2 separate regions of the Homo sapiens genome follow, and region 2 is linked to region 1. Evidence: fine-mapped expression QTL. Tissue or cell type: prefrontal cortex. Region 1 holds a variant in brackets; the other region holds the start of a gene. All regions are shown on one strand. Distances are between the middles of the regions. Region 1 holds the start of LOC105371318 (a long non-coding RNA gene). Region 2 holds the start of E2F4 (E2F transcription factor 4).

Region 1 (16,584 bases):
GTGCCCCCAGGCTGGGGATGAGGGAGGGAGGAGGACAGAGTGGGCATGCAACGTACCCACAGCCGACGACTCAGGCACGGACGCATTGAACAACCGATGCGTGAACACAGGCCAGTTGTCGTTCACGTCATGAACTTTGATGGTGAAGCTGGAAGGAGTCTCCAGGTTTTCGCCAGTGTCCTTGTCCACAATGACAGCAGTGAGGTGGTACTCTGAGATATTCTCCCGGTCCAGCCTCTCAATGGCGAACACGTCTCCTGTCTCTGCATCGACCCGGAAGACCTTGCCCACATATTCTCCTTTGAGCAGGTACTTGGCATTCTTGCGACTCACGCTTGACTTGATCTAGAAAAGAAGAGGTGACGTGAGCTGGGAATGGGCGGCAGTGGCTGTGTGTGAGTGTGTGAGTGAGAGTGTGTGTACACAGGTGTGCCTGTGCATGTGTGTATGTGGTGTGTGTGGTGCTGGCCAGGGTCCCTAAATATGATACTGAGATTTTTTATCAAGAACCTCTGGCAGCCATAAAAAAGAATAAAATCATGTCCTTTGCAGGAACATGGATAGAGCTGCAGGCCATAATCCTAAATGAACCTAAGTGAACTAACCCAGAAGCAACAAATCCAATACCACATATTCTCACTTATAAGTAGGAGCTAAACAATTGGTACATATGGCCATAAAAATGGAAATAATAGACACTGGAGACTCCAAAAGAGGGGAGGTTGGGATGAGGGCGAGGGTAGACAAATAACCTATTGGCCATAATGTTCACTATTTGGGTAATGGGTATGCTAGAAGCCCAATCCCCACGAATATGCAATATACATGTAACAAACATGGACATGTACCCCTGAAAATAAAATTTTTAAAAAGCCAAAAAAAAAAAAGAACCTCTGACTAGTCACCAATGAGTTGTTCTCATGGTGTGAGTTGCCTGGCAGAGCCCCAGCATGCCTAGAATGGTGCCTGAACAGAGTAGGTGCTTAGAAAACATTTTTTGAGTGGAAAAAATATACCTGGTGCCATTGGAAGGCAAAGGATATTTTTGCCCTGTAGAAGTCACTTAACCTCTCTAAGTTTTAGTTGCCTCATTTGTAAAATGGAAATATTGCTTCTGATGTTGCTTTGCTCTGAGGAGTAGAACAGCACTTTTGAAGATGAGTTCTGGGAAACACTGAACTCTTCTGCTGTTCCACGCAAAGATGGGGTCCTAGCCAGTGGTGTGCTGGCGCTGGATTGTATCAGCTTGGCTTTCAAGAACCAGCTTAAATTTTCAGGAATATTTGTGAGCTGATTGTTAAATACAGCCACTATTACAAATTAAATTATATGAACTTACAATTAAATAAATCATGAAAAACAACGAATTCTCAGAATTCATCGCTTCCTAATTGTTTTGCTACCTTTGACTGTGTTTTGAGGTTATCTGTGTTTATGGTATCTGTATGATGGAAATGCTACATAATGATGTGCTCATGAGGATCTTCTCCTGTCTTGTCTTGGCCTTCGATGACATCACATTGATAGCTTGAAATGAGACATGGTGAGAATATTTACACCATGGAAATTGGCAAGTGCTACGCATCAGAACTTTTCCCCTGGACAGCCAGTTGTCAAACATATATCAGCACACCCCTGGGCCCAGTACAGAAAATGGTGCATAAAATATTCTCTTCTTGGAGATTTACAATGTACAGCTCTGCAGAAAAGAACTCCAGTGAGCTTTGTGTAACTCAGGATTTTCCATACTTCTTAGACCACAGAACCATTTTTCTGTGTAACATGTACTGTTCATGTCCCAAGGAGTAAGATTTGGAAAATAATATATGTAAAGCATCTTACACCAAACAGGGTTCTATAAATGCTAGCTAATAATTATCAATAATAGAGCCACAGGTTAGAGGATCTCCATTTAAAGAATCATAGAAACAGAAAATATTAGGAACGGTATAGTTCCTATAGAATAGTATTCTATGCATATACAATGATACTCTCATAGAAGGTTAGTATGTCCCCAAAATAGAATTCTATTCAATTAAAAAATATAACTTGGTGCCTGGGAGGTGCCAGGCCCCCACTAGGAGTACAGAGGGTACAGATCCCATTGTGGCTCTCAGGATCTAGGTTTGCAGCCTCAGAGGCTGGCATGCTGAGGAAGTGCAACATTGCTTTTTTGTTTGTTTGTTTGTTTTTTGAGTTTAGCTCTGTTGCCCAGGCTGGAGTGCAGTGGCACGATCTTGGCTCACTGCAACCTCCGCCTCCTGGGTTCAAGCGATTATTCTGCCTCAGCCTCCTGAGTAGCTGGGATTATAGGCATGTGCCACCGTGCCTGGCTAATTTTTCTATTTTTAGTAGAGACAGGGTTTCACCATGTTGGCCAGGCTGGTCTCAAACTCCTGACCTCAAGTGATCTGCCTGCCTTGGCCTCCCAAAGTGCTGTGATTACAGGTGTGAGCCACCACGCCCAGCCTCTTTTTTTTTTTTTTTTTTTTGAGACAGGTACTCCGGAGTAGCTGGGACTACAAGTGTGCACCACCAAGCTCGGCTAATTTTTGTATTTTTTTGTAGAGATGAGGTCTCACTATGTTGTCCAGGCTGTTGTCAAACTCCTGGGCTCAAGCAATTCTCCTGCCTTGGCCTCTCAGAATGCTGGGATTACAGGCATGAGCTACTGAGTCTGCCTCACATTATTTAAAGTCAAATAGAGCAAGGGCTTTTGTGTGAAGGCATCTGGTGAGGACTCTTTAGAAAGGCTGGACTCGGGGGGCATGGTGGCTCATGCCTGTAATCCCAGCACTTTGGGAGTCCAAGGTGGGTGGATCACTTGAGGTCAGAAGTTTGAGACCAGCCTGGCCAACATGGTGAAACCCCATCTCTATTAAAAATACAAAAAAAAAAAATTAGCTGGGTGTGGTGGCACACCCAGCTGTAGTCTCAGCTACTTGGGAGGCTGAGGGAGGAGGATCATTTGAGCCTGGGAGGCAGAGGTTGCAGTGAGCCAAGATCACGCCACTGCACTCCAGCCTGGGTGACAGAGCGAGACTCAGACTCAAAAAAAAAAAAAAAAAAAAAAAAGGCTGGACTCCTCCAGAGAACTCAAGAGAGGCTGGGGTCTCAAGAAAGAAGAGGGAGATTCCAGAGGGTATGGCCACATCCCATGAGGTCTGGAAAGTGTCCCCAGGGTTTAGCAGCAGTGCAGTCATTGGAGCCCTCAGTGAGGGCACTGACAGGGGTTGATAGGGTGGGAAGTTAGATGATGCAGCCTAGGGAAGATTCTAGAAGGGGAGGAAGTGGAGACAGGGAGTGAGGATTGCCCCCTTGGTCGGGCAGGGTGGGAGAGAGGTGGGCAGCAACAAGCATCTTGGAGCAAGGCTGTGGCGTGCAGGGGGCAGGTGGGTTCATGAGGAGGTACTAAGGCCCAGTGGCCAGGATGCATGATGAACAGCTGGACTAGAGGCAAGAAGCCATGCCTCAGCTCTGTAACCTGTGACCTGCGAGGACAGTGGAGACTCAAAGAGAAGGGGACAGTTTGGGGCCCTGTGTGAGTTGCTCAAGGTGAGGATAAGATGGTGGCCTTCCAACTGGGCTCTCGGTGAGTGTGTTAGGACCCACCAGGGCAGGGAGGATGGAGGGAGGAAATCAGCTTGGATCTGTGTGATTGGAGTTCTGCATACAATTTCATGTGAATATCCAGTTTCTGTTTTCCTTCCCTTCAATTTTTCTTCCCTAGACTTTATTTTTTAGAACAGTTCCAGATTTACAGAAAAATTGAGAAACTAGGGCAGAGAGTTTCCAGATGCCTGCTCCTCTTTTTCCCGGAGTATGAACATCTTACATGAATGTGGTGCATTTGTTATAATTAATGGACCAATACGGATGCATTATTATTTACCAGAGGGCATAGTTTATGCAGAGTTCCTTAGTTTTTTTTTACCTAATGTCTTTTTTCTATTCCAGGATCCCACACTGGATACTACATTCCACAGAGGTGTCATGTTTCTTTAAGTGCCTCATGGCTGTGATAGTTTCTTAGACTTTCATTGGTTTCTGATGACCTCGACAGGTTTGAGGAGTATGAGTCACGTATTTTGCAGGATGCCCCTCTGTTGGAATTTGTCTGATGTTTCTCTCATGATTAGATGAGGGTTATGGGTTTCTGGGAGCCTCCACTCTCCCTACCCCTGTTTTCTAAGATCACTGTATTTAAACATAACATCTTAATGCCAAAAACCCATATTTGTGGGTTCAGAAGGCGGCTCAGGACTTGCTCCCATTGTCCAGCCAGGTCTGTAAACAAAGGCTCCAGGCTCTGACCTTGATAAACAGGGACTTCCTTCCCTCAGATTACATCCTCAGGAGCCGGAGGTGATCCTTGGAGCCCTGTCCTTGTCTTTTCCAGGCACCCTTGTTTCTTCCCAGCGTGACGACCCCTTGTGGTTCCTCGGAGACCCAGCCCCATGCCAGGGGCCAAGTGAATGCTGTTGGCAAATGACAGCAGGCCTGGCGTTCTTCCTGCTGCTAGAAACCCTTGGGCGAGCCCTTGAAAGGTAGCCCCCACTTTCTACGGACTTTCCCTGACTCACTCCATAGATTTTCCTTGAGGTCAGACATTCTTTTTAGAGGCTGATTCAAGGCACAATTATCCCACCGGGAAGGATGCAGGTGGATTGACGACATTTTCCTGTATGACACAGAGCTCGCATTTGTGTTGAGAGTCAGGAATGCTGGTTTTCCTAGGGCGGCATTCTCCTGGGGCTCTGTCCTGGTCTCCTAGTGTGACCCTGGGCAAGTGTCTTCCCCTATGAGTGGCCATGCTGGAGGACTTCAAGATCCCAGTTATTGTTGGGAGCCATGGGCACAGCCAGCTGGTTGTGGGTGGGGCTCCGAGTGGAGATTCCCCAGCTGGCCCCATTCCCATCCAATTTTGTCAGATGCTACACAGATCTTTCCTAATTTCCCAAATGGGAAAATTTCATGGCAGCCATGGTTGGCCCTGCCCTAAACCCTGAACCCTGGGGCCACACCGGCCTTCTCAGTCTGAGCATGGGATGGCCCTATAGCCAGTCCACGGACCAAGGTCTGCTGGGGCATTTCTGGTGCCATGGCCAGACTGGGCCTTCCCATCAAAAGTTCCTCTCCAGCCTGTTTCTCTACAGCCAGAGGGCACCCCCACACCATTTGTGGGGTTCTTTGTCTGACATATGCTGCCCCTCTAGACCAGGATGGGTAAACTGTTTCTGTAAAGGGCAGGGAGCAAATATTTGTAGCCTTATGGTCATTTGGTCTTTGTCACCACCACTCAACTTTGCCATTGTAGCATGAAAGCAGCTGCGGGCAATCTGTAGATGAATGAGTGTGGCTGTGTTCCAATAAAACTTTATTTGCAAGTCCAGGCAGTGGGCTGGATTGGGCCCGCAGGGGGTAGTTTGCTGATCCTTGCTCTAGACCACCCTCTCCATGAGGGTGGGGACCATGTCTGTCTTAGCCCACTGTTGTTACCTTTCTGGCACCCAGTCCGGTGCTTGGAATGGTCCTTCCTTTCTCTAGCACATTGACATGTTCTTTTTTGCACCTGTCATTTAGATTCCAAGAAGCTGACAAAGTGAGATTTTAACGCACTCAAAATAAACTTTCTTCCTCATTGAAAACTCTGAAAGCACACGGTCCATCTACCTGTCATTGTGTGTGAAATTCCACTACTAGGGCCATTCCTTTCAATTAGACTGGATAGCTTTGACATCAGTGACAGTTTGACATGGTAAGGCAATTCAGCAGTCACTCAGATATGCTCTGAGCTCTAGGAGGATGGGCTTAGGATAGACATGTTTTAAAGGAGGACAAAGTGAGGGTCAGAGTCTGAGGTCCTGCCCTGGAGGGCAGGCTTGGGTCAGGTACCTCATTACAGGTGTTGTGGAATATGGGGAGCTGTGTGGGGTCACAGGGAACCAGGGATAGCCTGAGAGAAGGGGTTTTTGAGGAGGTTCAAAGGCCTAGACTGGAGTTGGCAAAAATATGGCCTGGATGATTAACTTCATCTTCAGCACAATTTTGTGGAAGGCTGCACAGTTCTTTTCCGATCTTTCAAATGGGAAAATTTCACGGCAGGGTTGGCTGGTCTTGTCCTAAACCTTGAACCCCCAGGCCAGGTGAGCCTCATCAGCTTGGGCACTGGATGGCCCTTCTGTTAGTGATATCTAGTTTACAGACCAAGGTCTGGGAGAAATTGAACCATAGAGTTCACCACCACCTCCACCACCATCATCATCACCTCCATTATCACCACTATCAACACTTATCTTTCATCACTACCATCATCACTACCACCATCTCCATCAACACTTATCCTTCACCATTACCACCACCATCATCACCACCATCACAACCACTATCACAACCACCACCTTCCCCTTTACCATCACTACCACCACCACCACCACCTTGTCCTTCCCCAACCTCACCACCATCACCATCACTATCATCATCACTTCCATCATCACCACCATCAACATTTATCTTTCATCACCATCATCATCATTTATCTTTCATCACCACCATCATCATCACCATTACAACCACCACCTACCCCTTTATCATGACCACCATCACCATGATCACCACCATCACTGCCACCACCTACCCCTTTATCATCACCGCCATCATCGTGATCACCACCATCACAACCACTACCCATCCCTTTATCATCACCATCATCACCATCATCACAACGACCACCTACCCTTTATCAGCACCACCATCATCACCATCGTCAGACCACCGCCTACCCCTTTATCATCACCACCATCACCCACCATCACAATCACCACCTACCCCTTTATCATCACTGTCATCACCATTATCACAATCACCACCTACCCCTTTATCATCACCACCATCACCGTGATCACCACCACCACCTACCCCTTTATCATCACCACCATCACCATGATCACCACCACCACCTACCCCTTTATCATCACCACCATCACCGTGATCACCACCAACACCTACCCCTTTATCATCACCACCATCACCATGATCACCACCACCACCTACCCCTTTATCATCACCACCATCACCGTGATCACCACCAACACCTACCCCTTTATCATCACCACCATCACCATGATCACCACCACCACCTACCCCTTTATCATCACCACCATCACCGTGATCACCACCAACACCTACCCCTTTATCATCACCACCATCACCGTGATCACCACCAACACCTACCCCTTTATCATCACCACCATCACCGTGATCACCACCATCACAGCCACCACCACCATCACCACCATCACAACCACCACCTACCCCTTTATCATCACTACCATCACCACCATTCTCACCACTCCCACCACCACCTTGGCCTTTCCCATCCTCACCACCATCACTATCACTACCACCACCATTGCTACCATTACCACCACTACTTCTACCACCACGACCTCTACCACTATTGCTACCACCTTCACCCTTATCATCTCCACTCCTACAACCACCACAATATCTATTACCACCTTTGCCACCATCGCCATCACCACCACCACTTGTCACTATGGGCCAGCTGCTGATGGCTTCTCCTGTCCTGGGGCTTGAGCCTTACCTTGCCTACATGATGGGGAAGTGAGGTGTTTTTCTCTTCATCAATGTGCATCTGGTTCCAAATCCAATCTCTCTTTTGGCGCCGGTGGGTGGGCAGCAGGCTGTGGGTGTCCCGTTGGGCAGGGTTAGCACCTGCTGCTGCCACTGCTGCCACTGCCAGCAGGCCCAGGCAGGCGCCCGATGTGGCGAGGAGCATCATGAGCCTCTGCATCTTCCCAGGAGGAACAGATCTGGGGAAAGAGGAGACACATTCAGA[C/T]TCTGGCCAGTGACGATGAAAGGAGTACTTAGACACAGGTATTTCACATAAGAGCAGCTAGATATAATGCCAAAAGCCTGGGGCAAACACAATCTGCGGGTAATTAACATTATTGTTCCCCCTTTCAGGGAGCAGTCATGCACTCGGATGAAAGGTCGGTTTTAGGACAACATGAGTAAACAAGCGCATTTAAGATAAATTTCCCTACACTTCCTTGTACCTACTCCTCACCCTCTGCCTCAGGGTAGAACAGCTGCCTTCTGCTTATTCTTCCCCGAAGCTATGCAAAACCTTCTGACCTTTCAAGAAGGTTTGCGTCCTTTCCCTAAAATTTCTTCCACCACTCTGACCGATCGCCCATATATGGTGGCCACTGCCTAAGGGTGTGAGCAGCTTCCATAGGGAACCTAACTCCCTTTATCTGTTCACTCCTTCATCCTTCACTGTCTGCTGACACCAGCAGAACCAGACCCCCTTCATGCCTTGATGAACTCCGAACTGGGGAGGGTGAAAATAGACGTGGAAACCATTTCTACTTGCGAGTCACATGTGCTAGGACGGAAGCAAGTGCAGGGGATATGGGAGCCCAGAGGAGGGCCTGTGGGGAAGGTCTCCAGGAAGAGGGTGTGAGGCTGATGCCAATGGCAGCTCCTAAGTCCCCAGGCATTGGGTGCTCAGGTTATCCTCATTGTTCAAATGAGGAAACTGAGGCACACAGATGTTAAGTTCACATTGGAGTAAGTGGTGGGACTCAGACAGGAACCCAAGTGTCTGATAGCTAATCTTTATCAAGCATTTATTTTTTGCCTGGCACTGTTTCAAGCACTTTATATATCTTATCTATTTAATCTTCCCCATCATCTTCCAGGTTGGTGTAATTATAACCCTCATTTTGCAGAAGAGGAACAGAGAGGTTTCAGAACATTCCTGAAATCACCCAAACTGTAAGGAGCACAGCCAGGATTTGAACCAAGGTTGTCTGGCCCGGAAGTTCAAATCCTTTCCTCCTGACTTCCCTTGTCCCAGCAGCTGCTATGGGGTAAGATTTAAAGCCTTCTCTCGGCAAACATCTTCCTGCCTGAAAGCCCCTTTGACAATTTTGCCTTGATTCTGTCTTCAGAAGGCTCTTAGGAAAATCCAACTGTCTTAACCCTGAGGGCCAGCCCTTCACTCCAGATCTTACAGTGAGTGGTCAGCTTTGCTGTCAGAAGAGCAGGGGTGGGTGGGGTGGTGAGTTGAGGGTCTGGGTTCATAGGAATGGCTTCATAATTTGTGTGGCCCAGTGCAAAAGAATTTTAAGAAGGCGACAGAACATTAAACCAAGGATGATGCCCTTTGAAGTGCAAGCCCTGTACAGTTGCACAGGTTGCACACTCTTGAAGGCAGGTCTGTGGGGTAGGGATGTGGATCACCCAGAGATCAAGGCCTGGCTTCATTCTGAATTCCAGGAACAGGGGTTTTCTCTACAGCCCCACGAGGAGTGCAGGCTGTGACCTTGGCCATTAGCATGTTCTCTCAGCCCTGACTCTATCTCTCCACCCTCTGGGGTCCCTGTGTTACTGACCTGCAACTCCTGGGATGATGTAGAGGAAGAACAGGTGGGTGGGAGAGGGAACCAGGACTCACATATGGAGACAGACAAGGATCTACAAGGTGCTGGATGGGATGGCCTCCTCCCTTGACTGTCCCCTGTCTGGCCAGAGGGAGAGGCTGGACTCTGTACATCACAAGAGGTTTGTAAACTCTAGTAACATTTCCCCTGATTTGCTGGCGCCAGGCTGACCTCAGGGAGGGCTGAGGGTGTCTGTGCTGGGCCAGCTGACCTCTGGGCCCACTGATTTTAGTATCGACGGCCCCTGCCTTCTGGTTCCTGCCTCTGGCCCTGGAGGAAGTGGACTCCCAGGGTGGGGATAGGCCCCAGAATGCAAGTGCCATATGCCTGGGAGAGGCCCTGACCCCTCTGGGCCTCAGTTTCCTCAGCCATAAATGAGGGGGTCAACCTGGAAGAGACTTGAGGCCCTTGAAGGGATGCTCTAGGCAGGAGGAAGGCGGTGAGGAAAGGCTTGGAGAAGAAAGGAGGCAGGTTGGGAGTCCTGGCCAGGAAGCTGGTCCCTGACTCAGGGGAGGCGGCAGGCATGACCCCTGCCCCAGCCTCACTGGACCCAGACCCTGTGGCTCATTTCCTTCTTTGTCCAGAAAGAAAGTGCAAGTCTTGATTCTTTCTTCCTGCCTCAAGTGAGAAGTGACTCAAAGATGACAAAGTAAAATGGACAGAAGTGAAAACGAGAAACAGGGAGAGGGAGAGTTCTCAGGGCTCTGGGCAGAACAGGGTGAGCGCCCAGGCTCTGAGCTGATAGATAGGTGCTGGGTGCCTACTGCATGATGGGCTCCATGCTAGGCAATGGGGGTGCCGCAGTAAGTAAGACACACTCCCTTGGGGAGTCTGCAGTAATGGGAACAACAGGAAAATAAATAAGTCAATGAGGAAACGTATCAGCTGGCGATCAGAGATGTTCAGGGAATTACAATGGGAGGTGCTGCAGAGAGTGAGGGGGCAGCTGGCTGAGCCTGTGAGGCCAGGAAGGCCTCTGGGAGAGCGGACGTTTCAGCCCACATCTGAGTGCCAGCCACAGGACTGACAGGAGAGGGAAGGGAATTCCAGGCAGAAGTGCTGTTGCTGGTCTCTGGGTACCTCAACATCCGAGCCCACCTCTGTGCAGGCAGTGGTTGGTTTCCTTAAAGGAGCCCACCTCTCTGAAGCAGTCCCTTCATAAAATCTCTTCAATTGGCCTCCCAGGGTTCGCTCTGTTTCCTGCTGGGAACCCCATCTCTAATACAGTGAGCGGGAATGTGGTTTTCTCTTTCCTGGGGCCTATTGGGATGGGTTAGTGATCCCTAGGGCTGACCGCAGCCAGCGGTCAGATGGATAAATAGAGTCATGTGCTGCAAAATGACTGTTTGGTCAACAATGGACTGCACATATGAATGTGGTCCCCTAAGGTTTTAATGGAGCTAAAAATTCCTCTGCCCTAGTAACATTGCAGCCATTGTGACGTCACAGCACAAGCCATTACTCGTGTGTTTGGGGTGATGGTAGTGTAGACCAACTTTATAAAAAATGTTATATTAGGTTGGTGCAAAAGTAATTGTGTTTTATTTATTTATTTATTTATTTATTTATTATTTTTTCCTTTGAGACAGAGTTTTGTTCTGGAGTGCAGCGGTGTGATCTCAGCTCACTGCAACCTCCGCCTCCCAGGTTCAAGTCATTCTCCTGGCTCAGCCTCCCAAGTAGCTGGGATTACAGGCGCGTGACACCACGCCCGGCCAATTTTTTTTTGTATTTTTAGTAGAGACGGGGTTTCACCTTGTTGGCCAGGTTGGTCTCAAACTCCTGACCTCAGGCGATCCGCCGCGTCAGCCTCCCAAAGTGCTGGGATTGCAGGCGTGAGCCACCGTAGCCGGTGGCTTTTTTTTTTTTTAGACGGCAACAACAGCAATTACTTTTGCACTACCCTAATAGTAAACTAATTTCTTATTGACGAAAGAAAAATATTTTTAAGTAAATTTAGTGAAGCTAAGTGTACGGTGTTTATTAAGTCTACAGTAGGATACAGTGACGTCCTAGGCCACTCACCACTCACTCCCTGACTCACCCAGACCAATTACTAGTCCTGGAAGCTCCACTCATGGTATGTACCATAGAGAGGTGTACCATTTTTTATTTTTTTATTTTTATTTTTATTTTTTACTTTTTTATTTTTTTGAGATTGAGTCTCCCTCTGTCGCCCAGGCTGGAGTGTGGTGTGAATGCGGCTCACTGCAGCCTCAAACTCCTGGGCTCAAGCAATCCTCCCACCTCAGCCCCACAAGGAGGTATGTGCCAGCACATCTGGCTAATTTTTAAATTTTTTTGAAGAGATAGTTGGGGTGGAGGGGTTTGACTATATCGCCCAAGCTGGTCTTGAACTCCTGCCTCAAGTGATCCTCCTGCATTGGCCTCCCAAAGTGCTGGGATTACAGGCTCCTTTTTTATCTTTTACATGGGAATTTTATTGTATCTTGTCTGTATTTAGATATGTTTAGATACATCAATACTTGCTGTCGTGTTAAAATTGGCTACAGCATTCAGTACAGTACCATGCTGCACAGGTATGGAGCCTAAGAGCAATAGACTGTACCGTACAGCCTAGGTGTGCGGCAGGCTATACGATCCAGATTTCTTTGTGTAAGCACACTCTCTGATGTTTGCACAACAGCGAAATCACCTGAACTCGTTTTTCAGAATGTGTCCCAGTCATTAAGATGCACATCACACACCGGGGCCTGTCGTGGGGTGGGGGGAGAGGGGAGGGATAGCATTAGGAGATACACCTAATGTAAATGACGAGTTAATGGGTGCAGCACACCAACATGGCACATGTGTACATATGTAACAAACCTGCACGTTGTGCACATGTACCCTAGAACTTAAAGTATACTAATAAAAAATAAATAAATAAAATTAAACAAAGAGAAAATTTCAGGGTGAAGACGGTCAAAACTAACACATTCAGAATAAAATGAGGTTCCTTCCTTGATTTGAAAAAAAAAAAAAAAAAGATGCACGGCTGTACCTACACCAGACTTCAGCAAAGCAGAGTCCACCAGTCACAGGCTCGGACCACGTGGCTCCTGGGGGGACATTAACTCCTCAGTGGGCTTTGTCTGGCCCCACATAACAAAGCGTTCTCTGAAGGTGCAGAAAAGCCCCTTGGATTCTGTTGTGTGTCCAGCAGGGGCCCTGCTGCTAGCTCTGGAGAGAAGTCCCTTGGAGCACATGGGCCACCCTCAAGCTCCTTCCCTCTGACAGGGCTGAGACTGGCTCTCGCAGAGTCACCTCACAGCAGCTGTGTGTCATTTGCCAGGGCAGAGGGAGGTCTGGGTGCTCAGCTCTCATCAGTCAGCTGTTGGTGAGGGGCAGGACCTTGGGTTGGGGGCATTTGGGAGCTTGGGATCACATAATCCCATTTGCACCCCCATGCCAGAGCCTTGAGCACCCTCCCGAGACAGCTCTTTCTCGCCTGGGACGGTGGAGGAGGGCTGACATCCCTGAGCACTCCCCCGAGGCACACGTTATTTTATTTAAACCTTGCAACAACCCTTCTAGGTAGTTGTCTGCGTTCCCATTTTGCAGGTAAAGAAATGGGGGCTCAGAGAGGTAGCGTAAGTCATCTCAGTTCACATAGCCGGAGGCAGTGGAGCCAGGATTTGAACTTAGGCTGTCTTTCCCCCAAATTAGTGCTTTTTGCGTCATGCCACTCTCTCTATCTCTGTGGTGACATTCACATGTAATAATAATGAACTATTCTCGGTGCTTGGTCTTCATCCATGCCAGCGCATTTAATTTTCACACTATCCCCAGGATGTAAGACTTATCATTCCCATTTCACAGATTAGGAAACTGAGGCTCAGAGACAAACAACTCATGAATGGTTGTCATCAGATCGATCTTTTTCTAAATCCTAGGCTCCTTCTATACTCAATCTCAGAGACACCTGTGGGACCTTCCCATCTGAAAAGCCACATTTATTTGTGTCTTTTGCCCTTTAGGTTAGAAATTTGGCCACTAACTTTGGGAAACTGTGGCGGGTGGATCACTTGAGGTCAGGAGTTCGAGACCAGCCTGGGAAACATGGTGAAATCCTGTCTCTACTAAAAAATACAAAAATTAGCCTGGCATGGTGGCGCATGCCTATAGTCCCAGCTACTCGGGAGGCTGAGGCACGAGAATCGCTTGAACCTGGGAGGCGGGGGTTGCAGTGAGTTGAGATCCTGCCACTGCACTCCAGCCTGGGCAACAGGTGACAGAGCAAGACTTCGTCTCAAAAAAAAAAAAAAAAAAATTGGCTAACCAAAATGGGGGCTGCAGGGAAGGGTCTTGTTGGACAGATGTTCCTTCCCATCATGATGCAGAGGAAACCGGGCCAGTCAGATCTACTGCAGCCACAGCTGAAAACTGAATTTCTCTTGGCTGCAGCCTCTGGAGATGTGGTCATAGCCCTTTTTTCATTTTAGCCTGTTTCCTTTCGGCAGGTAAGAGTCACATCTCTCGGTCGTTCTCAGCAGTTTCCAGAGAGACTCAAGCTGTTGCCAGGTAGATTTGGGGCACCCCAGACATTCAGAGGGTCTGAGGATTTTGGAAGTGATTTCCATGTTCAGAAATTCCCAGCTGAGCAGCCCAGCAACTGCCTGATCACAGTGGTGAGCAGGGAGGGGCCACGCTTGGCAACTCAGATGTAGGTTCTGAGCACGCCGAGGCCAGGTACCTGCAGTGTCCCAGGCATCCAGGATGCTTATCGATGCTGCTGTCCCCAGAGCCATGTGAGAGGGTTTGGGGGCAGTTCCAAATGGAGGAGGATGGGCCCTCTGTACCCTCCCTCAGTCTGGGGAGGTCTGGAGGACCCAAAATGAGAGGACGGAGTGAGTGGCCCGAATCCCCTGGTGAGTGGGCGTGGAGCCCAGGATTAAACAGCAGGGGAGCCTTGGAAAATAAGGGGGACGACTGGGCTCCACCATGCTCCCATGGGAGGTTGGGACCGCAGAGGCCTCTGGGGTCCAGGTCTGTATCTACCGTGGGTGGGGCCACTGGGATCAGAACCTAGACACCTAGGCCAAGCCTGGTGACCGAGGGGTCCTCCGAAGGCTGAGTCACCTGGGCAGCCTGAGAAAAGGTTGGGGCTCCTGCGGCTCTTTCTGCTCCTCTCCAGCTGCCTGTCTGGGTCTGCAGGTGCCTGGTGAGCCTCCAGGCATAGCTCCGGCCCACAGGACGTTAACTCTCTGGGAAGCTCCCCACCCCACCAGGTTTGGTTGCATCCTCCCTGCCCGTGCACTTGCTGTCCTCTCTCCTCTGCCTGGATTTAGGACACATGTCACCACTTCTCTGAAGCTCTCTCTAGAGTCCTGGGGTTATACAGTCATGCAGCAAACATTTATTGAGCATCTACTATGTGCCAGGCACTTAATTCCATGCAGGAATAAACACAGGCTCCACTTCCGTGGGAGAGAGGGATGCCGGTCATGTGGTGAAAAATGCAGTTTGAAATTGTGACATGTGCTTTGATGGACAAATCGAGGAGGCTGTGGGAGCATACAGACTGGGAGGGCCCTGATGGGTCTGAGGACCACAGTCCCAGGAGTGAGTCCTGCCTCTCACTGAGCCACTGTGGGACATCACACAAAGCTCCCTTTGGTCCCTTTCCCTTTGTGGGCGTCCATCTCTCTGGGGTTCTGCCTCCAAGGGGCTGTGAGATCGGCTCAGCTCTGTGCTGAGTTACAGTGTCAAAAAGAGAGGCTAGGGATACAAGAGAAGAGGAAGGGAAGGGAAGGGCGGGGAGGGGAAGGGCTAGAGCTGCTTTTCTTGGGACTGCCTGGGACCCCTGGCTTTGTAGCTAAATAAGACATAGGAAGTCTGGACCCAGCTGGGGGCCCCTCAATGGGCTGGTCCAGCCCCTCAGCCCCTGGGCTGGTCCTGCCCCTGAGCACCAGGAGGACCCCCTGCCCCTCGACCTGACCAGAGCCCCACTCAAGCCTTAGATTCCAGGGGCCAAGTCTGGGCTTTGCAGTATAGGGGGTTTTCAATAGGCTGGAGGGCCTCAGGGGTGGGGCAGAGGAAGGCTCCAGGTCCAGGACACACACATGACATCTGCAGGCCTCATGGACCTGTGACACCCTCAAACATGCCTTCACAAGTGCACACCCCTGACCACAGGCACCTGCCCAGGCCAACTCCTGCAGGGCTCCTCTTTGCAGGCCTGGCTGCTCTCCTCCCTGACCCCCAGCACACCCGCTTTCAGCTAGGATCCCAGCCCAGCCTCCTGCAGCCTCTGGACTCCAGCCCAGAGGCCTGGGGTCAGGGATGAGGGGCAGGGCGCTGGGAGGAGCCGGCCTAGAACATGCAGGAGGTGTGCCTGCTGGAGTGGGGGCACTGAAGACCCAGCTCCGTGTGTGGCCCTGGGCAGCTCTCCCCACCGCTTTCCCATTCCACAGCTCAAATCTCAGTCCAGGTTGGGGCTGGGACCCAGTGACCCCCAAACTCTGTGGGGACTCTCAAATGGTCTACTTGAGCTCAGGCATTTAAAGTTGCGTATTGGCGGCCACAGACTTTGGGAGGATGAAGGGTGAGGCCCTGGGAGCTCGGGAATGGGGTTTGGCCAGGCAGCTATGACCTGGCCCCTTCTGCTTCCTCCTGGTTTGTGGCTCAGTTTGGCCCTGGGATAGGCTTCTGTGGGTTCCAGACCTGTTCCTCTCCCTGCAGGTTCTGCCAACAGCCTCCCCACTCCCTGCTGGAGGAAGTCTAGCTCCTCAGCCAGCCCTTAAGGCCTAGCATGGTTGTCCCCTGCCCACCCTGCCAGCTCTCCTCTCCTCCACTTCCCTGCCCCTTCCAGCCTCGAGGAGAGCTAGGAGTTCCTGAAATGCACAATGCCCTTCCTCTCAGCAGCAGGCTTTTTGCCCAGGCTGTTCCTTCTGACTGGAATGCTCTTCTTTGCTGTGTTTCCTGGGTTAACGCTTTACTTCTTCTCAAGGCCCACACTGCCTACTCCATGAGGTCTTCTGATTGCCACCTGCCACCAGCACAGCCTCTGCCTCCTGGCCTATCTGCCCAGGCAGGTTCTGGGCCTAAGAGTTCACTTCATGCCATACCTGGGTGCATGAACTCAAGGCCCTAGACCTGGACGTGCTGC
Region 2 (12,156 bases), 810 kb before region 1:
AGGTGGACACCGAAGTGTGCAGATTGGGAAAAGATCTAGGCCAGGCGGAGGCTGGGGATTCGTTCACCCAGAGCTGCAGCCCTCTCCAGGAGTGGAATGGGACAGAGCCCTCAAAAACAGCAATGTTTAAGGACACGCCAGGGAAGAGTTCAAGAAGCCAGTGAGATAGGAGAGCCAAAAGCTGGCATCATGATGCCAAAGGAGGAAAGAATATTGACACAGACCAAGAGAGCACCAGCAAAACACGCTGGAGGCTGCTGGGCTCGGCAGGCCTTCGGCAGCTTCTCAAGAGTAACACCGCTGTAACACTGGGGCTGGGGGGGTGACTGCTGCAACCTGAAAGGTGACTAGGAGACTAATGAATGGAGATTACTTTTTCAAGGAGTCCAGACAGAAAGGAGACAGAGAAGATGAGAGAGAGTGATACAGAGAAGTGTCAATTAGTGAGGCGGTGCTCCAAGGGGTGGCAGGAAAGGGCTTGAGAGACGGCAGGGAGTTCTGTGTTAGCCTAGGATGGGGTGCTAGAGGGGGCACCAGCACTGACCCAGAGGTGCTGGCAGAGAGCTCTCGTGTCCAGCAGGGTTGACAGGAGATCTGGGTTCCATCCCCAATTCTGTTTTCTGACCTAGGACTGGACTGAGGCTAGACTCTCTCTCTCTGCCCCCAGGGGGCAGGTACTCACCACCTGTGGGGTCTGCCTTGATGGGCTCAAAGGAGGTAGAAGGGTTGGGTCCGGACGAACTGCTGCTGTTACTGTTGCTGCTGCTGCTGCTGCTGCTGCTGCTGCTGCTGCTGCTGTCCAGCAGGGCAGAAGACTGCAGTGGCCGGGTGTCCAGTGTTGTTGGGCCCAGTGGGAGTGAACTGAGCTCACCACTGTCCTTGCTATCAGTCCCAGGGCCGCCACTCACTACAATGATAGCCCCCAAACCCAGTCATACAAGGTCAGGAAGAGGTCGTTGAAACTGGCTGTGCTGGAACCCAGACACAGGAGGACCACAAGCCTGGTTCCCAGACCCAAGGAGAATTAGGCATTGCCAGTCACCCCCAGAGGAAGTAACCTGAAATTAGTCACCACAGGAGACAGGGACACAAGACCTACAGAAGAAGACTCGTGGTCAACATGTCTGCTGTGGCCATACTTCAAGACGGGCTACCAGGGCAATTGAGACACCAGTGGATGTGGATCTGGGGGAGAAAACTGCCACCAGCAATGGCTCTTCCCACAGTCAGAGGTTCCCTGTTAAAAAGGGCCCATTCAGGCAGGCATGGTGGTTCAAGCCTGTAATCCCAGCACTACAGGAGGCCGAGGCAGGCAGATCATTTGAGGTCAGGAGTTCGAAACCAGCCTGGCCAACATGGTGAAACCCCATCTCTATTAGAAGTACGAGAATTAGCTGCGCATGGTGGGCGCCTGTAATCCCAGCTACTCAGGAGGCTAAGGCAGGAAAATTTCTTGAGCTTGGGAGGCAGAGGTTGCAGTGAGCCAAGATCGCGCCATTGCACACTCCAGCCTGGGGGACACAGTGAGACTCCGTCTCAAAAACAAAAACAAAAAAGGCTCATTCATTACCATAGCAAGGGAAGGCTAGGTGGTCAGGAAAAGGACAATCCCCAACCTGAAGAGTCTCTTCCAACTCTGAGCATGGTGTTCCACAACACAGAGATACTACCTCTTGGGCCTCTGTCACAAGCTCCCATGGTGCCTCACCTGTGATCTCAGCTGCTGGGCCAGCCATTCCCTGGACTTCTGCACTGCCAGGGACAGCAGTGGGAGTGAGCTGAGGACTATTTGGACGTGAGGCTTCCTGGGACTGGGCTAGGGCAGGCTTGGGCAGAGGTGGAGGTGTAGAAACAGCAGATGGGCTCTGGAGCAAATCTTCAGGTGGTGGCACAGGCACAGCCACAGGGGGTGAGCTCCATGCCTCCTTGTTCACCAGCAGAACCTCAATGGGACCACTCACACTCTTCAGGTGAATCTGGTACTTCTTCTGCCCATTGAGACCCTAGAGATGGGTGGTAAGGGATGGGAGATGGGTAGAATTGTAAGCAGGCTTGGCTCCTGCCCGACTCCGGGTCAGGACCACAGTGTCCTCTCCCACCCAGGATGCCCATCCTCCTAGATAACCCCAAACTCCAGGCCTCCCCCTACTTGCCCCACCCAGGACTTATCAGGCTCCACAGCCAGCACCCGCCCTCAGCTGACCCCGCCTGCCTGGGCTAAGCACCCACCTCTGGGATGGGCACCTCCAGGCTGGTGCCTGATGGGGCCCGGATGGCCAAGAGGGTATCTCCTAGAATGACATGGAGAATGGGTCAGAGCCCATGGGCTCAATCTGAGCTGGGAACAGAGGTGCCTGCCTTTTGGAGCAAGGCAGGAGATCACGGTCCCTGAGGAACTAGACAGTGGGCCTCACCCATCCCCCATAGTGGCCAGGCAGAGCTAAAGCTCTTCTCTTCCTGAGAGCCCAGGGTCAGTAACCAGGAAATCTGGGTTCAATTATGTGGAGTGAAAGATCACTGGCCACAGGCACCTCATTCCTCTACCGATGGCTGATCCCTAGGTGAGGGTGTTCTAGCCAAGGCCAACATCCCTTTCCCATGACCAGTCAGGAGCATACAAGATGGAGAAGAAACACATCAGCGGGGCACAGTGGCTCACACCCATAATCCCAGCACTTTAGGGGGTTGAGGAGGGAAGACAGCTTGAGCTCAGGAGTTCAAGACCAGCCTGGGCAACACAGCAAGAGCCCATCTCTTAAAAAGAAAAAAAAAGGAACAGATCCTGTATTCACAATGCAACTAAACTAACAAGTTGGAAGTGGGCACCCCCATGCCCTGCATGTAAGAGCCTGCACACAAGCAAATACACACATATCCTCTCTCCCTCTCTCCCCCTTGTGCCTCTATCATACCCAAGAAGCCAAATCCAGGAAACAGTAGAGATGGGAACAGACCCAGGGACCCACTCCAGAATTTCTGTACCCTTTTGGTATAGCTGACCTCCACAGGGTCCCAGTGACACTCAGACAGAAGACTTACCCTGCCTGGTTCCTCTCTGAGCAGGCCCCAGAAACCCTCTTAAGAGACAGAACTCTCCTAAGACACTGAGCCCAGTGCTCAGGACTTTGGCTGAGCCCAGCCCACCCCCTTACCCCTACCCAGGCTCTGCTCACCAGCAAAGCATCTGCAGATGTCCTCATGAGTGACGTAGGCCAAAGTGTGAGGGTTAAGGAGAATGGCTGATGCCCTATGGTGACAGATGGCAGACTACAGAAAAGACCCAATTCTTTAGCTAAGGTCTGACACACAGGCCCTCAGAGACCGTTCTGGGGACTCAGGTCCACCGGGGGAGGGATCACAGGCTAAGAGTGGAAGGGGAGGGGCTCTGAGGAGGGAGCCTGAGGCTGGGCCATGGCCAGTGGCTATAAGACAAACTCCCAAGAGGAACAGGACTCAGGGCAAGTTGAACCAGAGGGCCCCTTGCCCACTCCCCCCAGCAGGGACCGCCAGGAGGATATCAGCTGTTCTGCACGTCCTCTGTGACGTTCCGGATGCTCTGCTGCACCCACACCTTGTGCTGGTCTAGTTCTTGCTCCCGCTGCTGCAGCTCCTCGATCTCTGCCTTGAGCTCAATCAGTTTGTCAGCAATCTCCCGGGTATTGCAGCCAGGCCCCACACCCCTGAGCCCAGGGAGTGGGGCTGAGAGGGACTGCTGAGAACTCTGGGTCCCATGGCCCCTGCCTTCTTCGGCACCCTCCACCCCACGCCCGACACTTCTGGGTGGGAGACTCTACTACCCTCCCACTATGCCCACTCACTTCCACTGGATGCTGTTCTTGGACTTTTTCTCGATTAGCCCGATACCTTCCAAAACATTGGTAATGTCGTAAATCCGCCGCTTCTGGCGTACAGCTAGGGTGTCAGCTGCCTGGCAGAGAGAATGGAGAATGCTCAGCCCCACTCTGGGGTGTACCCCCAGCCACCCTGAGACGTGGTCTGGGAAGGGAGTAATCTGGATTCCAACCCTGTAGTGCCTCCCAGGCGCTACTGCAGCTCAGGACCGCAGCTCTGTCCCATAGGCAGCTCTTCTCCTCGCCAGCCAGGAAGGGCCACGAGGACGAACACCTGCAGCCCGAGCCTGGCCCATAGCTGTAGCTCGATGGCCTCGGCCGAATGAATGAAACATCCCCCGGCTTCTCTCCTGTGAGAAAGCACACGATGGCGGCCGGCTCTCGGAGGACCCAGCTGGGCCGCCCCCGGGGTTCCCGCTACCGGCCCAGGCCTGGTCCACCAGCCTCCCTTGTCTCCCCTTAGCCCAGGCCGCACCAGCTTGAGGTCAAGCACGCCGTCCTTGGCCTCCTGCAGAAGGGACACGAACTTGGTGGTGAGCAGTCCCAGGCTCTTTTCGTGCCGGCTTGGAGTGCCCGGGGGCGGCGGCGCCTGTGGCCCGGCCTCCGCCATCGCGCCCGCCCGCCGCCTCCCCTCAGCCAGGCCAGGCCAGGCCGGCGCCGCCGCCACTTCCGCTTCCGTTCCTGGCCGCCGGGCAGCCGGAGCCAGCGTTACTGCTTCCGCTTCCGTCCCGTGCGCCTTCCAGGGAACGTGGCGCTATTGCTGTCTGTGGGTGCAGCCGCAAAACTTCAGGGACCAGTAGCAAATGTCCAGCCTCCGAATAAGACGAAAACTACCTGGGTAGACCGGGGAGTTGGGATGAAGTTGGGGAGGAATGAGAAGGGCGTCAGTGGGCCGCCCTGGCAGTAGAGAAGGGGACGCCATCGGAACTTTCCTTGCCAATCTGCCCCAACATCACTAACTCTGCCTAGTCCCCATCTTGGGAGAGGAGACCACACTACCTGACTAATCCAATCTGCTCCCTCAAACCTGTTCCTTTTCCATTTTTTTCTCTTTATTTATTCTTTTATATATTTCAAACTCATTTTACTGCCACATCAAACCTGTTCCTAAAGGCTGCCCTACTGTCTTGGGGTCACCCCATCTATTCCTATCCCTCACTTCCTGCCAAACAGCAAGCACTAACTATATCTACCTTGTCCACCTTGTTCCACCCATGGTCCTAGCCTCATCTTTCGCTCGTCTTGTCCTCACAGTACAGTGCTCAGAGACTATGGGGTTATGAACACTTCAGCCAATGCAAACGTGTTTACCTATGTGTAAATATCAGTAAAGCACTCAGTCATTCCTGGCATGCAGGAATGTGTGATACGGTCATTTTGTAACTTTTAACATTGTTACTATTTATTATTGTTTCTTTTAGATCAGGTCCTCTGGGAAATGGGACTCGAGATAGGGTTTTGCAGCAAGTTTGTTGGGGATCCACACTTTTTTTTTTTGAGACAGGGTCTCACTCTGTTGCCCAGGCCGGAGTGCAGTGGCAAGATCAATGCCGTCTCAGCTTCCTGGGCCCAAGCGATTCTCCCACCTCAGCCTCCCAAGTAGCTGGGACCACAGGCATGCACCACCATGCCCGGCTCATTTATTTTTAGTTTTTTAGAGATGTGGGTCTCACTATATTGCCCAGGCTAGTCTTGAACTCGTGGGCTCAAGAGATCCTCCCACCTCAGCCTCCCAGAATGCTGGGATGACCGGTGTGAGCCACCGCACCTGGTCAGGATCCACACCTTTAAGGGATTAAGACAAGCAGAATTGAGCAGATGCAATTATATTATAGGCCTCAGCCTATCCCACTAGGATCTCTGAAATTGGGGTAGCACTTCTGAAGGGTTCATGTTCACACGATGGTACCATGCTTTTGCACCCCAATATTGACTGAGAGACTCAGTGGTGTGATCTCAGTAGCCTACACTCCTGGCAGCTGGAGAATGAGCACTTCTGTCCTGAAGGGTGGATTTGGGTGGTGGACTGAACATCCACTAAATAATTACCACCTTATAGTCCCTTCCCTGGCTCCCTATAACTCTCAAGATAAACACAGCTGCCCAGTTGCGGTGACTCACGCCTGTAATCTCCCAACACTTTGGGAGGCTGAGGCAGGCAGATCGCTTGAGCCCAGAAGGCTGCAGTGAGCTATGGTGGTGCCACTGTACTCCAGCCTTGGTGACAGATCAAGACCCTGTCTAAAACAAAAAAGATAAACACAGCTTTCATGACCCTCTCCTACCACCCCCCACCACACCCCTCTTCACAAGAGCCTGCCACCTCTCACTCCTCCGCAGAGGTACACATCCTCCTCAGAGGCTGGCCAACACAGTTTTCATCCTGTGCTGTTGATGTCGTCTGCATCCATATCTGCACACTCTGCCCACCACCCCAGGTTGAGGCCAAGTCTAGCAAATCCCTATCTCCTCTCCTGAGCACTAAGAGGTTCTGGGTAGGCTGGTCAAGACTGGTTGAGTACAAGTACACCCCACCCCCCCGCCCCTCAGGGAAGTGTCGCCCAGCTGTCCCCACCCTCTGTGCAGACACTCTTTCCTGTTGGGAATAAAATGCCAGAGACTCAGCTTCCTTCCTTTCTGTTGATGGCCTTGGGGAGGGAGGAGCCTCGGTGGGAAGAAGGGGCTTCTGGGTGGGGAGTGGGAGAGAGACTTCCTTGGGGAGAGGAATTCAGCTGCACGCTGGAGTCAGCTGGAGTTGCCCAGGCCCTGTGAGCAAGTGGCAGGCGTGCCCAGCTGCATTGGGGAGAGGGCTGTTCTCAAGGCCAAGGTCATTTTTGGAGGGAGAACTGGACGCCTGATCAAATCTGGTAAGTTCTGTACCAAACTGTCCTGTGCAGCTCAGAGCAGGACCAGGGTCCAGTGGAGGCCTGTGCCCACTCTGTCTCGCTTGACATCTGCAGGGGCACGACTGGGAAACCTAGCAGGCAAAGCCTCCCAGGTGCCCTCCGCATCACACCCGCTCCCTCTCACTTCCCGAGGGGGCCGGGAAGAACCTCCTTCCTCCTCTCAGAAGGGCTTAGACAGAGGCAGCAGCTCACAGGGGCATCTACTCTGCCTGCTTGCCCCGGGCCCACCTCAGCTCTGGCTCCTCCAGGCCCACAATGGACTCAGCAGCCAAGGATGAGATGCAGCCGGCGTTGTCCCCTGGTATGAACCTTTTGGGTGGACTAGGGGAGGAATGATGGCAACAAAGATGGGACTGGCTGGGCGCAGTGGCTCACGCCTGTAATCCCAACACTTTGGGAGGTCAAGATGGGCAGATGACCTGAGGTCAGGAGCTCCAAACCAACCTGGCCAACATAGTGAAACCCCGTCTCTACTAAAAATACAAAAACTAGCTGGGCGTGATGGCACGCGCCTGTAATCCCAGCTCCTCGGGAGACTGAGGCAGGAGAATCGCTTGAACCCGGGAGGCGGAGGTTACAGGGACCCGAGATTGCACCACTGCACTCCAGCCTGGGCAACAGAGCGAGACTCCATCTCAATAAACAAATAAACAAACAAATAAATAAATAAATAAATAAATAAGAAAGCTGGGACTGGGGTCGTTGGGCCCTCCTCCCTGACTACACGGCTGCCCAGGCTCTTCCTTCCCAGGACCTGAGTGGCCAGAGCAGGAGCGGGCAGAGCAGCTGGCCCGGGGTGCAGCGCTCAAGTGGGCCTCAGGCATCTTCTACCGGCCGGAGCAGCTGGCCAGGCTAGGCCAGTACCGCAGCCGCGAGGTGCAGCGTACCTGCTCCCTGGAATCGCGCCTCAAGGTGGGCATGGGGCAGGGGGTGCGGGTGCTGGGACTGTGCTGCAGGGCTGGCCCAGCCTCATGGCTCCATCTTTCCACAGTCAGTGATGCAGTCATACCTGGAAGGCGTGCAGACTGGTGTGTGGCAGCTGGCCCAGGCCATTGAGGTGGTGCAGGGAACCCGGGAGGCCCTGAGCCAGGCCCGTGGGTTGCTCCAGGGCATGTCCCAGGCCTTACAGACTCTAGAGCCCCTACGGGAGCGGGTTGCCCAGCACAAGCAACTGCAGGCCCTGTCTCACCTGCTGCCTCGGCTGCGGGCAGGTGAGCATGCAGGGACCCTGGGCCTCAGCCTCCAATAGTCAGTCCACAAACACCCATCCCTAATCAAGGGGCTGGGGCACTAGATGGGGAACTGCATAGAGCAGCACACCAGGGACCTCCCAGACAGTAGCCCGGGCTTCCCATGGCCTATGAGGCAGCTCATCCTGGGATTCCCACGTGTGGGATGCTTGAGTCAGGACAGACACCCAGTCATGTGACTCTGGCCACCTGGTTATCAGTATATTCAAACTCTTCCCTAACAGAGTGGCTGAGCGAGTACTGGCAGGACCCCCCGATTTCCCCTGCCTTCCCTCCAGGATCCTCAGCTTCCTCATATTCCATGAGTTCATGGGTTGACCTCTGGCCCACCAGGTCTTTAGGACATTGCCAAGATCCTCTTAGATTGGCCAGTACTCTACTGGTTATTTATTTATTTATTTATGGTTTTTTGTTCATTTTTTGTTTTGTTTTGTTTTTGAAACAGAGTCTCACTCTGTCACCCAGGCTGGAGTGCAGTGGTGTGATCTCGGCTCACTGCAACCTCCATATCCCAGGTTCAAGCAATCCTCCTGCCTCAGCCTCCCCAGTAGCTGGGATTACAGGCATGTGCCACCATGCCTGGCTAATTTTTGTATTTTTAGTAGAGATGGGATTTCACCATGTTGGCCGGGCTGGTCTCAAACTCCTGACCTCAAGTGATTCACCCACGTTGGCCTCCCGAAGTGCTGGGATTACAGGCATGAGCCACTGTGCCCAGCTTACTCTACTGGTTGTTAAATATTTTATGCATCACCCCCGCCCTGGGCCTCAGTATCCCCTGCTGTACACATTGAGGCGGTGGGAAGGCTGAGACCCAGGGCCGTCTCCTTTTCACTCTCATTAGTGCCGGCTGCAGTGTCCCACACACAGACTCTGATTGATGGCCAACAGTTCTTGGAGGCATATGTGAGCCTTCGGGAGCTGGAGCAGCTGCGAGAGGATACGTGGGCACCCCTGGGGGGCCTGGAGTTGCCAGTCTTCCAGGGGCTGGACCTTCTGTTCGAGGCACTGGGCCAGGCTGTGGAAGCAGCTGCAGGGGCCGCAGGGAAGCTGGCACGGGAGGACCCAGCCCTGTTGGTGGCTGCTGTGCGTGTGGCGGAGGTGGAGACTGGACGAACAACCCCCCTGGGCCAGGTCCCCCGGGACTGGCGTCAGCGCTGTCTGAGGGCACTACAGGAGGGCCTGGAGCAGGCCCACTTTGGGTCACCTCTGCTGCCTGCACCAGGGGCCCTACCAGGGTGGCTGGAGGCTCTGCGAGTGGCCCTGCCAGTCGAGTTGGCCACAGCTGAGGCACTAGTAGCGCCTTGCTGCCCGCCACAGTACAACGTGGTCCAGCTATGGGCCCACACGCTGCATAGTGGTTTGCGCCGCAGCCTGCAGAACCTCCTTGCAGGGCCTGAGCTAGAAGCTGCGGATGCCTTCGCCTTGCTGCACTGGGCACTGCATGTGTACCTGGGGTCAGTGCCTTTGGGGCAGCGGGACATGGGGGATCAGAGGCTGGGGGCTTGGTGGCTTGGTGTGACACCAGGCCACCTATCTCCAGGCAGGAAATGATGGGGAGCCTGGAGTTGGGGCCTGAGGCTGATGTGTCCCAGCTGGAGCCCCTTCTGACCTTGGAGAACATTGAGCAGCTGGAGGCAACATTTGTGGCCAACATCCAGGTGAGTAGTTGAGGCACAGGTCCAGAGAAGTCCTACTTATCTGCTGTGGGCCTTTATCTGCAGAGTGGAATGTCTACCCATCTCCAGCAGGGTCAGATCCCTGCTACATTCCTTTGCCCCTGGCCCCTCCCCCCAGGCAAGTGTGTCTCAGTGGCTGCAGAATGCACTGGATGGGGAGGTAGCTGAGTGGGGCCGGGAGCATGGGCCCAACACAGACCCGTCTGGCTCCTATTACTCACCAATGCCAGCCATTGTGCTGCAGGTAGGTGGGAAGTGGCCAGACAGGCAGGCAGCCTCCATGGGGCAGTGGGGAGGAGAGGAAGGAGGGAGGCTTTGCCGATGGCTGCTCATTTCTGCCTGCAGATCCTGGAAGAGAACATTCGTGTGGCCAGCCTGGTCAGTGAGTCACTGCAACAGCGAGTGCATGGCATGGCACTGTCAGAACTGGGCACATTCTTGAGGAGGTTTGCTGAGGCACTGACCCATTCCTGATCCCTATCCCTGCTCCCCAGGCAGCCCAAAGGGGCTCTGAGTGAATAAGACATGTCACAGGGAAAGGGCTCTTTCAAACAAGGACTTGGGTATCTTGGAGGTGGGACAGGAGTACCAGGGACTGGGGCTGTGGGGATGCCAGCATAGCAGCAAGTCCAGGAGCCACCTCTGCCCATTGCAGCTTCAGTGATGCTCTGATCCGATTCTCCCGAGACCACTTCAGGGGGAAATCAATGGCCCCTCATTACGTGCCCTACCTACTGGCCGCCCTCAACCACAAGTCAGCACTCAGGTACCAGAAGGCCCCCAGGGAACCCCACCTTCACTAACCCCCTATTGAGTACCTATTATGTATGGGCTCAGCCCACACTAGGACACTAGGGACTTTGGACTCACATCGCCCTGGGGTTCCAATTCTAGTTCTGCTAATTACTAGTTGTGTGACCTTGGATGAGTTACCTAATCTCTGTGAATCTCACTTTTCTCATTAGTATTATGGGGGTACTAATGGAATGTTCTGAGAATCACATGAGATAACATGTAAAGTGGCCACCATAGTGCCTGGCACATGGTGTCAATTGTTCATTCGTCCAGCAAATATTTCAAGGCCCTACTCTGTGCCAGTAATGTCTGGGGTTACAGCTGTGTGTATACACGCACACACACACACACTCCCTTCCTCTTGGGTGGTATGTTCTTTTTGGTGGGGGCAAGGAAAACAAGTGATGATTTTTTACTCCCTCCTCACTGGGATACTTCCCTTCCTTTACGAATGAGGAAACAGAAACCGAAAGAATGTTTTCCTCAAGGACGCACCGCGAATTTGAGGCAGGTCTCGCTGGGCTGTGTCCTTTGCAGCTCGCCAAGCGCCCGTCTCCCAGCCCTGGTCCATGCCTGGGACCAGAAGTGCAGAGAGCCGCTGTTCTCGCTCCCTCCCGTCAAACACTTGCCCCACAAGGTGGCGCCGGAGGGTCTGGACCACCGAGGGCCATGCGGGCCTTGGCCTTGGTCCTGAAGCCGTAGTTTTGCTTGGTCCAGCTCCTCAGTGTCTGTCCTGCAGCTGGACGGGGCGCCTTCAGGGGCCTTGGCTCCAGTGGAAGCTGCGCTGGACGAGTTGCAGAGGAGGATCTACCGCTTGGTGTTGGAGGCGCTGCAGGCGGAGCTCCAGGTGAGGCCTCCTTCAGGTCAGGATGGGAGCAGGTGGAGAGGTGGCGGTACAGCTACGTATGGGGGTCTCCGCGGCAATGCCAGATCTGGATCATTTCCCCAGCCCCTGTTCGCGGATCTGCCCTCGCGCCAATGGCTGTCGAGCCCTGAGCTCCTGCAAAGTGTGTGTGAACGGACGGGGCGCTTCTGCCGGGACTTCTGGCGCGTGCGGAACCCCACGGTTCAGGTGGGTTGGGGGAAAAGATTGGGGAAGGGGCGGCGCGGGTGAGAGGCGACCTGCACCCGCCTGATTGCCTCCCCGCAGCTGCTGCTGGCTGAGGCCGAGCGTGCCGTGGTGCTCCAGTACCTGAGCGCGCTGATGCAAGGCCGCCTGGTGTGCCGCGGAGCCGACGAGAGGACCCAGGCGGCCGAGCGCCTGCGGCACGATGCTGCCCAGCTTCAGCAGCTTTTCCTCAGTTTGGTGAGAGCTTCTTGGGCGGGCAGACGGGCGAGAGTCTCAGTGGCTGGGTGGGAGAGAGGGCTGGCGCGAGACCCTACCCCGACGTGCTCAGGGCCTGGAGGAGAACGCGCACTGCGCGCCGGTGCTGCTCGCCCTGAGGGAGCTGCTAAACCTCCGCGACCCCGCGCTGCTGGGCCTGGAGGTGGCTGGCCTGCGGCAACAATTTCCCGACGTGAGGTGCGGACTGGGGGCCAGAAGGGAAGAGAAGCCGGAGGGCGGGGAGGACGGGGCTGACGCGCCTCCTTGGTGCCCCTGCAGCGAGGACCACGTCTCCGCCCTCTTGGGCCTGCGCGGGGACTTGTCCCGGGAGCAGCACCTGGCCGCGCTCAG

The links. PIP is the estimated chance that this variant, and not a neighbour inherited with it, causes the effect.
Region 2: it holds the start of E2F4, and the variant in region 1 is the best candidate, but not a certain one, in a credible set for the expression of E2F4 in prefrontal cortex (GTEx, PIP 0.55).

What each region holds. Positions count from the first base shown.
Region 1 is chr16:66,370,570-66,387,153 of GRCh38, reverse strand. It overlaps CDH5 (cadherin 5), which reads right to left. Exons shown (of 12, transcript NM_001795.5): 2 at 7,607-7,835; 3 at 57-345. The coding sequence starts at 7,816. It overlaps LOC105371318 (a long non-coding RNA gene), which reads left to right and starts at 11,353. Exons shown (of 3, transcript XR_933687.3): 1 at 11,353-11,553; 2 at 13,937-13,997. RefSeq lists enhancers at 3,431-3,955, 7,053-7,679, 12,715-13,288, 13,931-14,460, 15,659-16,160. The variant C/T (reference allele first, on the strand shown) is at 7,862.
Region 2 is chr16:67,184,533-67,196,688 of GRCh38, reverse strand. E2F4 (E2F transcription factor 4) reads right to left here and starts at 4,534. Exons shown (of 10, transcript NM_001950.4): 1 at 4,327-4,534; 2 at 3,819-3,928; 3 at 3,519-3,680; 4 at 3,174-3,217; 5 at 2,230-2,291; 6 at 1,709-2,003; 7 at 683-907. The coding sequence starts at 4,461. EXOC3L1 (exocyst complex component 3 like 1) reads left to right here and starts at 6,553. Exons shown (of 14, transcript NM_178516.4): 1 at 6,553-6,718; 2 at 7,006-7,058; 3 at 7,509-7,669; 4 at 7,749-7,968; 5 at 8,852-9,464; 6 at 9,551-9,668; 7 at 9,805-9,930; 8 at 10,032-10,132; 9 at 10,342-10,452; 10 at 11,199-11,328; 11 at 11,431-11,553; 12 at 11,632-11,787; 13 at 11,879-12,003; 14 at 12,085-12,156. The coding sequence starts at 7,013. RefSeq lists enhancers at 3,383-3,492, 4,573-4,712, 3,881-4,811, 11,208-11,307 and a silencer at 4,293-4,482.